Regions from separate parts of the Homo sapiens genome. Here region 1 is linked to region 2. Evidence: fine-mapped expression QTL. A gene starts in region 2. The other region holds a variant in brackets. All regions are shown on one strand. Distances are between the middles of the regions.

Region 1 (5,512 bases), 30 kb before region 2:
CATCACTTTGGGAGGCCAAGGCGGGCGGATCACGAGGTCAGGAGTTCGAGACCAGCCTGACCAACATGGTGAAACCCCCGTCTCTACTAAAAATACCAAAAAAAAAAAAAAAGTTAGCTGGGCATCGTGGTGGGCACCTGTAATCTCAGCTACTCAGGAGGCTGAGGCAGGAGAATTGCTTGAACCTGGAAGGTGGAGGTTGCAGTGAGCCGAGATCGCGCCACTGCACTCCAGCCTGGGCGACAGTGCGAGACTCAGTCTCAAAAAAAAAAAAAAAAACAGGCCGGGCGCGGTGGCTCACGCCTGTAATCCCAGCACTTTGGGAGGCCGAGGCGGGCGGATCACGAGGTCAGGAGATCGAGACCATCCCGGCTAAAACGGTGAAACCCCGTCTCTACTAAAAATACAAAAAAATTAGCCGGTCATAGTGGCGGGCGCCTGTAGTCCCAGCTACTTGGGAGGCTGAGGCAGGAGAATGGCGTGAACCCGGGAGGCGGAGCTTGCAGTGAGCCGAGATCCCGCCACTGCACTCCAGCCTGGGCGACAAAGCGAGACTCCGTCTCAAAAAAAAAAAAAAAAAACAACAAAAAACAAGGGCCAGCATGGTGGCTCGTGCCTGTAATCCCTGGTGGCAGGATCACCTGAGCCCAGGAGTTAAGACACTAATCTGGGCAACATAGGGAGACCTCATCTCTACTAAAAATAAAAAAAAAAAATTTAGCTAGGCGTGGTGGCATGCCCCTGTAGTCCCAGCTACTCAGGAGGCCGAGGTGGGAGGATTGTTTGAGTCTAGGAGTTCAGGGCTACAGTGAGCTATGATTGTACCATTGCATTACAGCCTGGGTGACGCTGTCTCCACAACAAACAAAAGCCCAAAATAAAAAACAAAAACAAACCTACTGTGTGTTGTGTTATGATTGGTGTGGGGTTCAGAGCCTGACTCTACCTGTTGCTTCTTTTCCTTTCTTTCCTTCCCTCCCTCCCTTCTTTGTTTTTTGAGATGGAGTCTTGCTCTATTGCCCATGTTGGAGTGCAGTGGCGCGATCTCGGCTCACTGCAACCTCCATCTCCTGGGTTCAAGCAATTCTCCTACCTGAGCCTCCCGAGTAGCTGGGACTACAGGCGCCTGCCACCACACCCAGCTAATTTTTGCATTTTTAGTATAGACAGGGTTTCACCACGTTGGCCAGGCTGGTCTTGAACTCCTGACCTCAGGCAATCCACACGCCTTGGCCTCCCAAAGTGCTGGGATTACAGGTGTAAGCCACTGCTCCTGGCCTGTTTTTTTTTCTTTTTGAGATGGAGTCTTGCTCAGTCACCCAGGCTGGAGTGCAGTGACGTGATCTCAGCTCACTGCAACCTCTGTCTCCCGGGTTCAAGCAATTCTTCTGCCTCAGCCTCCTGAGTAGCTGGGATTACAGGCGTCCGCCACCACGCCCAGCTAATTTTTGTATTTTTAGTAGAGACGGGGTTTCACCATGTTGGCCAGGCTGGTTACGAACCCCTGACCTCAAGTGATCATCCCGCCTCAGCCTCCGAAAGTGCTGGGATTATAGGCATGAGCCACCGCGCGTGGCTGACTCTACATCTTTCTAGCGGTATGACCTGGTACAAGTTGCTTTACCTGTGTGGGCCTGTTTCTTCATCCATGAATGGGAGTCATGGACTATCTACCTCATAGGGTTGCCAGGGAGAGTAAAGATCGTGCACAGAAAATGCCGCATAGGTGCCCCGTCAACGCCAGCTACTGTTTAATTCGTGCGCGCTTCCCCAGCACACACTGTGTGGCAGGAACCATGGCAGGGCTTTTAGATGATTACTTTACTTAATTGCGGTGGGGCATGGTGGCTCATGCCTGTAATCACAGCACTTTGGGAGGCTGACACAGGCAGATCACTTGAGGTCAGGAGTTCGAGATCAGCCTGGCCAATATAGTGAAACTCTGTCTCCACTAAAAATACAAAAATTAGCCAGGCATGGTTGTGGGCGCCTGTAATCCCAGCTACTTGGGAGCCTGAGGCAGGAGAATTGCTTGAACCCGGGAGGCAGAAGTTGCAGAGAGCCAAGATGGCTCAATGCACTCTAGCCTGGGTGACAGAGCTTTCCATCTCAAAAAAAAAAAAAGGTGGGGGAGCTGGGCGTGGTGGCTCATGCCTGTAATCCCAGCACTTTGGGAGGCCGAGGCAGGTGGATCACAAGGTCAAGAGATTGAGACCATCCTGGCCAACATGGTGAAACCCCATCTCTACTAAAAATGCAAAAATTAGCTGGGTGTGGTGGCGGGCGCCTGTAGTCCTAGCTACTCAGAGGCTGAGGCAGGAGAATCGCTTGAACCCGGGAGGTGGAGTTGGCAGTGAGCCGAGATCACGCCACTGCGCTCCAGCCTGGTGACAGAGTGAGACTCCATCTCAAAAAAAAAAAAAAAAAAAGAAAAAGAAAAACAAAAAAACTACTTACTTATTTGCCACAAAAACCCTATCAGGTGGGCATCTTCATCATTTCCATTGTACAGATGGAGAAACAAGCCTCAGGGTGGGGGCGCAGCCACTTACTGACGACTCCTCAACCAGCAAGTGGTGGTTTTGAACCGGGACCCTCTCACACTACCTAACCAGGCCAGGACAACCTCTGCCCCTCTCCACCAAAATCCAAGAGATCAAGGGGATGTTGGAAGTGGTATGGGCCCTGAGAGGTCTCTGACCTCTGCCGCAGCTCCAAGGTCAGCACGCAGGGAGGGCTATGTGTTTGCTGTTTGCTGCTTGCAATGTTTGCCCATATCAGGGACGGGAACAGGCTGAAGGTCATTCAGGGTGGACTTCAGAGGCAGCACACAAACAGCTGCTGGAGGATAGGAACTAAGAGGTCGGAA[G/C]GGGGCAGGGCGGGCCCAAAAACAGAGCCTGCAACTCTGTTCTCTAAGTCACCAAGCCCCAAAACCACTCTCAAATCTTTCTCTCTACCCCTGGATCCTTACCCTGGTCTGAATCCCATCCCCTCATCCCCCGAAACCCTGCACCCTCCTCCCTGCTAATCTTCTGGTGTCTCTAGCCACTCCCCTCCTGGCTGGATACTCTGGGTGATTGCAGGGAAGGCTGGGGTAAAAAAGGGTTTGAAATGTCCCTCCTAATGCATGTTGAAAAATTGAGTTATAATTCACATTCCATAAAATTTACCCTTTTTTCTTTTTCTTTTTTTTTTTTTTTTTTTTTGAGATGGAGTCTCACTCTGTTGCCCAGGCTGGAGTGCAGTGGGGCAATCTCAGCTCACTGTAGCCTCTGCCCCGCAGGTTCAAGAAATTCTCCCGCCTCAGCGTCCCAAGTAGCTGAGACTACAGGCACTTGCCACCACGCCTGGCTAATTTTTTAATTTTTCGTAAAGATGGAGTTTCACCATGTTGGTCAGGTTGGTTTCGAACTCTTGAGCTCAAGTGATCTGCCCGCCTCGGACTCCCAAAGTGCTGGGATTACAGGCGTGAGCCACCGCGTCCTGCTAAATTTACCCTTTTAAAGTGTACAGTTCAATGGTTTTTCCTATATTGGCAAGGTTGCACAATCACCACTATCTAATTTGGAACATGGCTCACTGCAGCCTCAACCTCCCTGATTCAAAGCCATCCTCCTACCTCAGCCTCCCAAGTGGCTGGAACCACAAGTGTGCACCACCATGCCCAGCTAATTTTTTTTAGGAGGGATGGGGTCTTGCTATGTTGCCCAGGCTGGTCTTGAACCTCTGAGCTGAAGCAATCCTCCCATCTTGGCCTCTCAAAGGTTAGGATTACAGGAGTGTGCCACTATGTCTGGCAGGGGATGATTTTGGAAGAGAACTGGAGGAAGTGAGGAGGGAGCCAGGCAGATATCTGGACCCCTGGGGAAGAACATTCCAGGCAAGAGGAACAGTAACTGCAAGGGCCCTGAGGTGGGAACCTGCCCAGTACATTGGAGGAATAGCAAGGAGTTGCTTGTGAGTGATGGAGAGAGAGGGATGAGGCGATCGTGAACCGGGTAGTGTCCTGTTTGTAGGCCTTTGGTAAGTTCTTCTGGGTTTGCTCTGAGAGAATCAGGAGAGTTCTGAGCAGAGGAAGAGCATAATCTGACTTGAGGCTGGGCACGGTGGCTCATGCCTGTAACCCCAGCACTTTGGGAGGCCGAGGAGGGTAGATCGCTAGAGCTGGGCAGTTTGAGACCAGCCTGGGCAACATGGTGAAACCCCGTCTCTACTACAAATACAAAAATTAGCTGGGTGTGGTGACACACACACACCTGTAGTCCCAGCTAATTGGGAGGCTGAGCAGGAGAATCGCTTGAACCTGGGAGGCAGAGGTTGCAGTGGACTGAGATGGTGCCACTGTACTCCAGCCTGGGCAACAGAGTGAGACTCCGCCTCAAAAAACAAAAAAACAAAAAATCTGACTTGAGTTCTAACAGGCTGCTGAGTGAGAAGAAAGGAGAGTATAGGAGTTTGGAGGGTTGATTTTGGGGGAGAAGGGAATGCATTAACCCCAGAGAGTAATATTTATAATTTATTTATTCTCTTTCTTTCTTCTTTTTTTGGTAGAGACGGTGTCTCACCATGTTACCCAGGCTGGTCTTGAACTCCTGACCTCAACTGATCCTCCCATCTCAGCCTTCCAAAGTGCTGGGATTACAGGCATAAGACACTATGCCCAGGTTCAGGATTTCCTTTTTTTTTTTTTTTTTTCTCCTGAGACACAGTCTCACTCTGTCATCCAGGCTGGAATGCATGGCGCAATATTGGCTCACTGCAAGCTCTGCCTCCCGGGTTCACGCCATTCTCCTGCCTCAGCCTCCCGAATAGCTGGGACTATAGGCGCCCGCCACCATGCCCAGCTAATTTTTTGTATTTTTAGTAGAGACAGTGTTTCACCATGTTAGCCAGGATGGTCTCGATCTCCTGACCTTGTGATCCACCTGCCTCGGCCTCCCAAAGTGCTGGGATTACAGGCGTGAGTCACTGCGCTCGGCCCAGGATTTCCTTTTATGTTTTGAGATGGAGTCTTGCTCTGACGCCCAGGCTGGAGTGCAGTGGCATGATCTCAGCTCACTGCAGTCTCTACCTCCTGGTTCAAGCTATTCTCACGCCTCAGCCTCCCAAGTAGCTGGGATTACAGGCACACGCCACCATGCCTGGCTAATGTTTGCATTTTTAGTAGAGATAGGGTTTCACCATGTTGGACAGGATAGTCTCCAACTCCTGGCCTCGAGTGATCCTCCTGCCTTGGCATCCCAAAGTGCTGGGATTACAGGTGGGAGCCACCGAGCCTGGCTTCAGGAGTTCCTTTTTTTATTTTTTGAGATGGAGTTTTGTTCTTGTCGCCCAGGCTGGAGTGCAACGGCACGATCTCTGCTCAGTGCAGCCTCCGCCTCCTGGGTTCCAGTGATTCTCCTGCCTCAGCCTCTTGAGTAGCTGGGTTTACAGGCACCCGCCACCATGCCTGGCTGATTTTTTTTGTATTTTTAGTAGATACGGGGTTTCACCATGTTGGCCAGGATGGTCT
Region 2 (5,209 bases):
CTGGGATGGGGCGGGCGAGATGGGGATGAGCCAGAGAGACCCAAGAGGGAGAGAAGGAACGGGGCAGAGGCCGAGAGAAGGAGACAGAGACAGATGCAGAGAGCAGATGCAGAGGGCAGAGGCAGAGACGAAGAAGGAGCTAGGAGGCCGGGCAAGGTGGCTCATGCCTCTAATCCCAGCACTTTGGGAGGCCGAGGCGGGAGGATCGCTTGAGCCCAGAAGTTCAAGACCAGCCTGGGCAACACAGTGAGACCCCATCTCTCTGTCTCTATATAAAAGAGCTAGGGAAGGACAGAGACAGAGCCAGGACGAGTGTGAGAGACTGAGTCAGAAGGGAAGAGAGAGAGACAAAGCTGAGAGAGAGAATTCCAGAGAGCTAAAGCCAGGAGTCAGAAATGGGAAGAGGAAGCTAGAACCAGCAGAGACCCAGGCCCCCCAAGACTTAGCGACAGGGGCAGAATGAAACCTGGACCTGGGGAGGTATAGCCGCCCACCAGGAGGGTCAAGGGCCAGGATGGGGACACTCACCTCAGTTCCTGGGTGACCTGGGAGCTGAGCAGCTCCTCCTGCACCTGCTCAGACAGTGTCTGCACCCAGCGCAGGTAATCCCAAAAGCGACCCAGTGCCAGTTCCCAGCGCTGGCCGCTCTGCCACTCGGTCTGCTGGCGCAGCTCGGGCTCCGGCTCTGTCTCCACCGCTTGCTCCACCTTGGCCTGGCATCCTGTGTGGAACAAGTTCAAGGTGGGTCAGGGTCCTTCTGACCCCGTCCAGGCATCTAGTACCTAGGGGCACACAGAAGGTGCTCCACAAATGCTTCTTTGGAGCCATGGTGGGCAGGGTGAGGGGGGAGTCGGTTTAATCACTTGGAAAGCATTATGTATTTATAAACAGGGTCTTGCTCTGTCACCCAGGCTGGAGTGCAGCGGCCTGAACATGGTTCACTGCAACCTTGACCTTCTGGGCTCAAGCGATCCTCCTGCCTCAGCCTCCTGAGTAGCTGAGAGCACAGGTGTGTGGCACCATGCCTGGCTAATTTTTGTATTTTTAGTAGAGACAGGGTCTCACTATGTTGCCCAGGCTGGTGTTGAACTCCTGGGCTCAAGTGATCCTCCCACCTTGGCCTCCCAAAGTGCTGGGATTACAGGGGTGAGCCACCGCGCCCAGCGGAAAAGCATGTATTGAGTGTCCTTGTGTGCCCCAGGCAGGGCTGTGTGGGGGTGATGGAGAATAAAGATCACAGCTGCCCCGTGTCTGGTATTCACTATCTGCCTGCAATGCATTAGAAACCTCTAACTCCCAGCCAGGTGCGGTGGCTCACGCCTGTAATCCCAGCACTTTGGGAGATCGAAACGGGCAGATCACCTGAGGTCAGGAGTTCCAGACCAGCCTGGCCAACATGGTGAAACCCCGTCTCTACTGAAAATACAAAAAAGTTAGTCGGGTGTGGTGGCATGTGCCTGTAGTCCCAGCTACTTGGGAGGCTGAGGCAGGAGAATGGCGTGGACCTGGGAGGCGGAGCTTGCAGTGAGCCGAGATCCCGCCACTGCACTCCAGCCTGGGCGACAGAGCGAGACTTCATCTCAAAAAAACAAAACAACAACAACAAACAACAACAACAAAACAACTTCTAACTCCTATCTCAAGGATGGGGGAAACCGAGGCCCAGAGAGCGTCAAATCGCTGTTCAGAGCCAGGAAGCAGCACAGAAGCCTCAGAAGAGGGGGCCCAGGGTCTGCCTGAATGGGGCCAGGAGGTTGAGGTGAGGATGAGAGGGGGAGGAGCGGGGGGAACCGAGCAAGCCCCGCCCCCATACCTGCCAGGAATGTGACCAGCAACGCAGCCCACAGAACCTTCATCTTCCTGCCTGTGATTGGCCAGTCTGGGGAAGGAGAAACTGTCAATCAACCGCCAGTGAGGACTCCTCCCACCCCCAGCCCGGCCCCAACCCGGCCTCACCCCAGGTTAGCCTTCCAAGCCTTGTTGCATTATCTGCAACAGCCTAATCCCAGCACATTTACCAAGCCGCCCCCAACCCATTCCCTATTTAACTCCCTCCTGGTCTTCTCTTATCTCCCCATCCCCAGGTCGGCCTCCATAGAAAATTCCATCTTCCTCTCCCGGGGTTCAAATTCCATCCCCCCACCCCCTCCCCACCGCCGGTTCCATCTCAGTCCCAGTCTCGCATTCCTCATTCTCCCTTCACATTCTAAGCTCCAACCTCACAGTTAAGCGCCGTGTTCCATTTATGAGCTAATTCAGTCCTCATTTTAAAGTTCTCCAATCGACGGCTAGCTACCGTGTCGCTGCCCCTGGCTCCCCAGTTATGGAGATCTGAGGACACTGGGGACACCCAGTAGGTGCTCGATAAATGATAGTGACAACTCGTGGAGTCCTGCTATGGCTTACATCCCAGTCCAGCTGCTCTCCCCACCCCACCTTCTAGCGGGTCGGGTCGTCTCTGCTGCCCAGCCCTTCCCAGGTCCAGTCCCCTGCTGCTTGCCTCACCCCCGCTCCTCCTCTCCCCAAGCCCGACCCCGAGTAGCTCTCCTGAGACTACCTGGAGGCCAGGGGTTCCCAGGGTCCCAGCTCTTTCTAGAGGCCCCTGAGCTCATCCCCGTGCCCCCGACTGCGCTTCTCACCGGCTCCTGGGGAAGGACGTCCTTCACCTCCGCTGGGGCTGAGTAGGACTCAAGGATCCCAGACTTGTCCAATTATAGGGCTCCCCCTGTCCCGCCCCCTCCCCCAGGGATAGGGCGGGCTGGGCCAGCCCCCAGTCACGAGGTGGGCTGTTCTCCCCCTGCCCCAGGCACAGCAGGGCAGAGGGAGGAAGGAGGTGGGGCATAGAGGTCTTTTGACCACCCCCCACAGTCCCCAGGAAGGGAGGACACCTCGCCCAGTAATACAGACACCCTCCTCCATTCTGGGGGCCAAGCGTGGAAGGGGAATGTGGAGGCTGCCGCCCAGAGTCCTCCTTTCCTGACCCTGTCCTTTCCTGTGCCTGGATGAATGTAATCTGGAGAGGGGGCTGGGGATCTGGACTCCTGGATCCCAGAAAGAAAGTAGGGCTAGGGGGCTGGACAGAAGTGGGATGGGAGGGGCTGGGGGCGGTAGCTCACGCCTGTAATCCCAGCACTTTGGGAGGCCACAGTGGGCGAATCACTTAAGGTCAGGAGTTTGAGACCAGCCTGGCCAACATGGTGAAACCCCATCTCTACTAAAAATACAAAAGTTAGCCAGGCGTGGTGGCGGGCGCCTGTAATCCTAGCTACTTGGGAGGCTGAGGCAGGAGAATCGCTTGAACCCGGGAGGCGGAGGTTACAGTGAGCCGAGATCTCGCCACTGCACTCCAGCCTCAGCAAGAGGGAGACTGTCTCAAAAAAAGAAAAAAAAGAAAGTGGGGCTAGGCGGCTGGACAGAAGTGGGATGGGAGGGGTGGGAACAGTATGATGCACCTGCTAAAAGTCGAGGCTTTGCAAATGGGACCTGGGTTTTAATCACAGCTTCCTCTTTGGTTGTGACCTTGAGCACAGGGGAGCCCCCTCCCCACATGTGAAATGAGATTCCAGCACCTCCCCCTGGCTGCCACAGGTATTGTGGTTTCCAGGGGCTTGAAGCCGTGCTTCTGGGTTAAGGTTAGGATTCTGGAGTCAAATTGCCAGGGCGTGAATCCTGGCTCTGCCAGTTGCCAGCTGTGTGACCTTGGGCAAATGACTTGTCCTCTCTGAGCATCAAGTTCCTTTGCTCATCAGACTGGGAAAGCAGCGGCACGGGTATGTTTGGTGACAAGCTAACGTGTATTGAGCATGGAGGACAGCCCTGGCACACAGCGGTCCTATGTTAGGGCTAGCAATGGACAGGCCACAGTGAACGCTCAGACGCTGTCACTTTCCTAAGCCCTGTTATAAATCCCAGATGTTTCAGAGGAGAAACCCGTGGTTCAGCAGCAAGACGAATGGCAAAACCACACAGTGAGAACTGGGAGAGACTGGGACTCATTCCTGGCTCCTGGAGCGGGTGGGATCAGAAGATTCTGCGGGTCAGGGGAGGCTGAACTCCTGGTTCGAGAAGGAACCCCCAGTGCCGGGCCGGGCCTGTTTGCTTTGGCTGGCAAGGGGTGGCTGAGGTGGGGTTGGTAACCTGGGGTTGGTTCTACTCAGCAGCCTCCTTCCCCAGACCCTGGGGGCAGACAGGGTTTCAGTTCCTGGAGGCTCGGGAGTCGTGGTGGGCATCAGCTGACCCCAGCCCTAGGTTGGCAAAATCCAGACAGCACCAAGTCCTCAGACACAGGTGACCCAACTCCCATGGCTGGCCTAGGCCCCTCCTCCCAGGCCTGCGAGTCCTTGAGCCCCTTCTCCCTGACACAGCAGTTCCTAGTACCCTAGTTGTTCTGAAGCTGTTCCAGTAGCTTGAACCCTCTCCCAGCTCCCTGCCCCCATCTCTGCACTCAGAGACAGTGTCATCTCTGCTGCTGCAGTCTGCAGGGACAAAGTCCTCTATAGCCACTCCGGCCAGGTCAAGCTGGGGGCAAGTGACCTTGAGACCCTACCCTCAGGCAAGGGAAGGCCCGTAGTGTCCCCCAGCAGGGCAGATGTTCCGGATGGGAAGATAGCGACCCCAGGCCACGCTGCGCCCCTCTGAGCCGGACTTAAGGCAGCATCAAGGATCCGCTGCTTTCCGTGCTCCGGCCCTCTGGCGCCCCCTGCAGGCGGCTGGGGGAAGGTCAGGGCGGCCAGACTCCGGATGAAATGCTCAAAACAGGCCAGACACACTTGAGAAAACGGAGGCCTCCCATCGTTTTTTTTCCCACGTATATTTTTTGTTGTTTTTTGTTTTTTTTCTGTAAAATGTCCCGGTTCTTCCATAACTTATAAACATGATTTATACCGAGGAGATGGGAAAGTGGACGGGGCAGGGTGGACTGACCGGGGATGGGGAAGCTCCTCTCGCTGCCCCCTCGGGGCGGGCCCAGGCCCTTTGGAGGATGGGGACGCCAGGACACTCCTCCCTGAGGTTGTCTGGCCGCCTCTGCCCCTGGTGCTCAGAATCCTGCGTGCCCCTCAATTCCGGAATCCCTCCCGGGACCCCAGGCCCACTGGGCATGCTGCCCCTGCTACTCAGAATCCCGAAGCGCCATTCAGTTCCAGAATCCCCTCCTCAGCTGCTGGGGTGGCGGGGTCCCTCCTTTCCAATGTCCCCCCCGACCCCCAAG

The links.
Region 1: its variant is fine-mapped to the expression of APOE in ovary (GTEx, PIP above 0.99). The same link has a PIP of 0.9 or more in esophagus muscle, lung, prostate, testis and tibial nerve.

What each region holds. Positions count from the first base shown.
Region 1 is chr19:44,933,264-44,938,775 of GRCh38, reverse strand. No RefSeq gene overlaps it. Among named protein-coding and RNA genes, the nearest start is that of APOC4, 6.2 kb to the left of the region's middle. The variant G/C (reference allele first, on the strand shown) is at 2,870.
Region 2 is chr19:44,903,272-44,908,480 of GRCh38, reverse strand. It overlaps APOE (apolipoprotein E), which reads right to left and starts at 2,685. Exons shown (of 4, transcript NM_000041.4): 1 at 2,640-2,685; 2 at 1,814-1,879; 3 at 529-721. The coding sequence starts at 1,856. TOMM40 (translocase of outer mitochondrial membrane 40) reads right to left here. Exons shown (of 9, transcript NM_001128917.2): 9 at 4,792-5,209. RefSeq lists enhancers at 961-1,763, 2,566-3,368.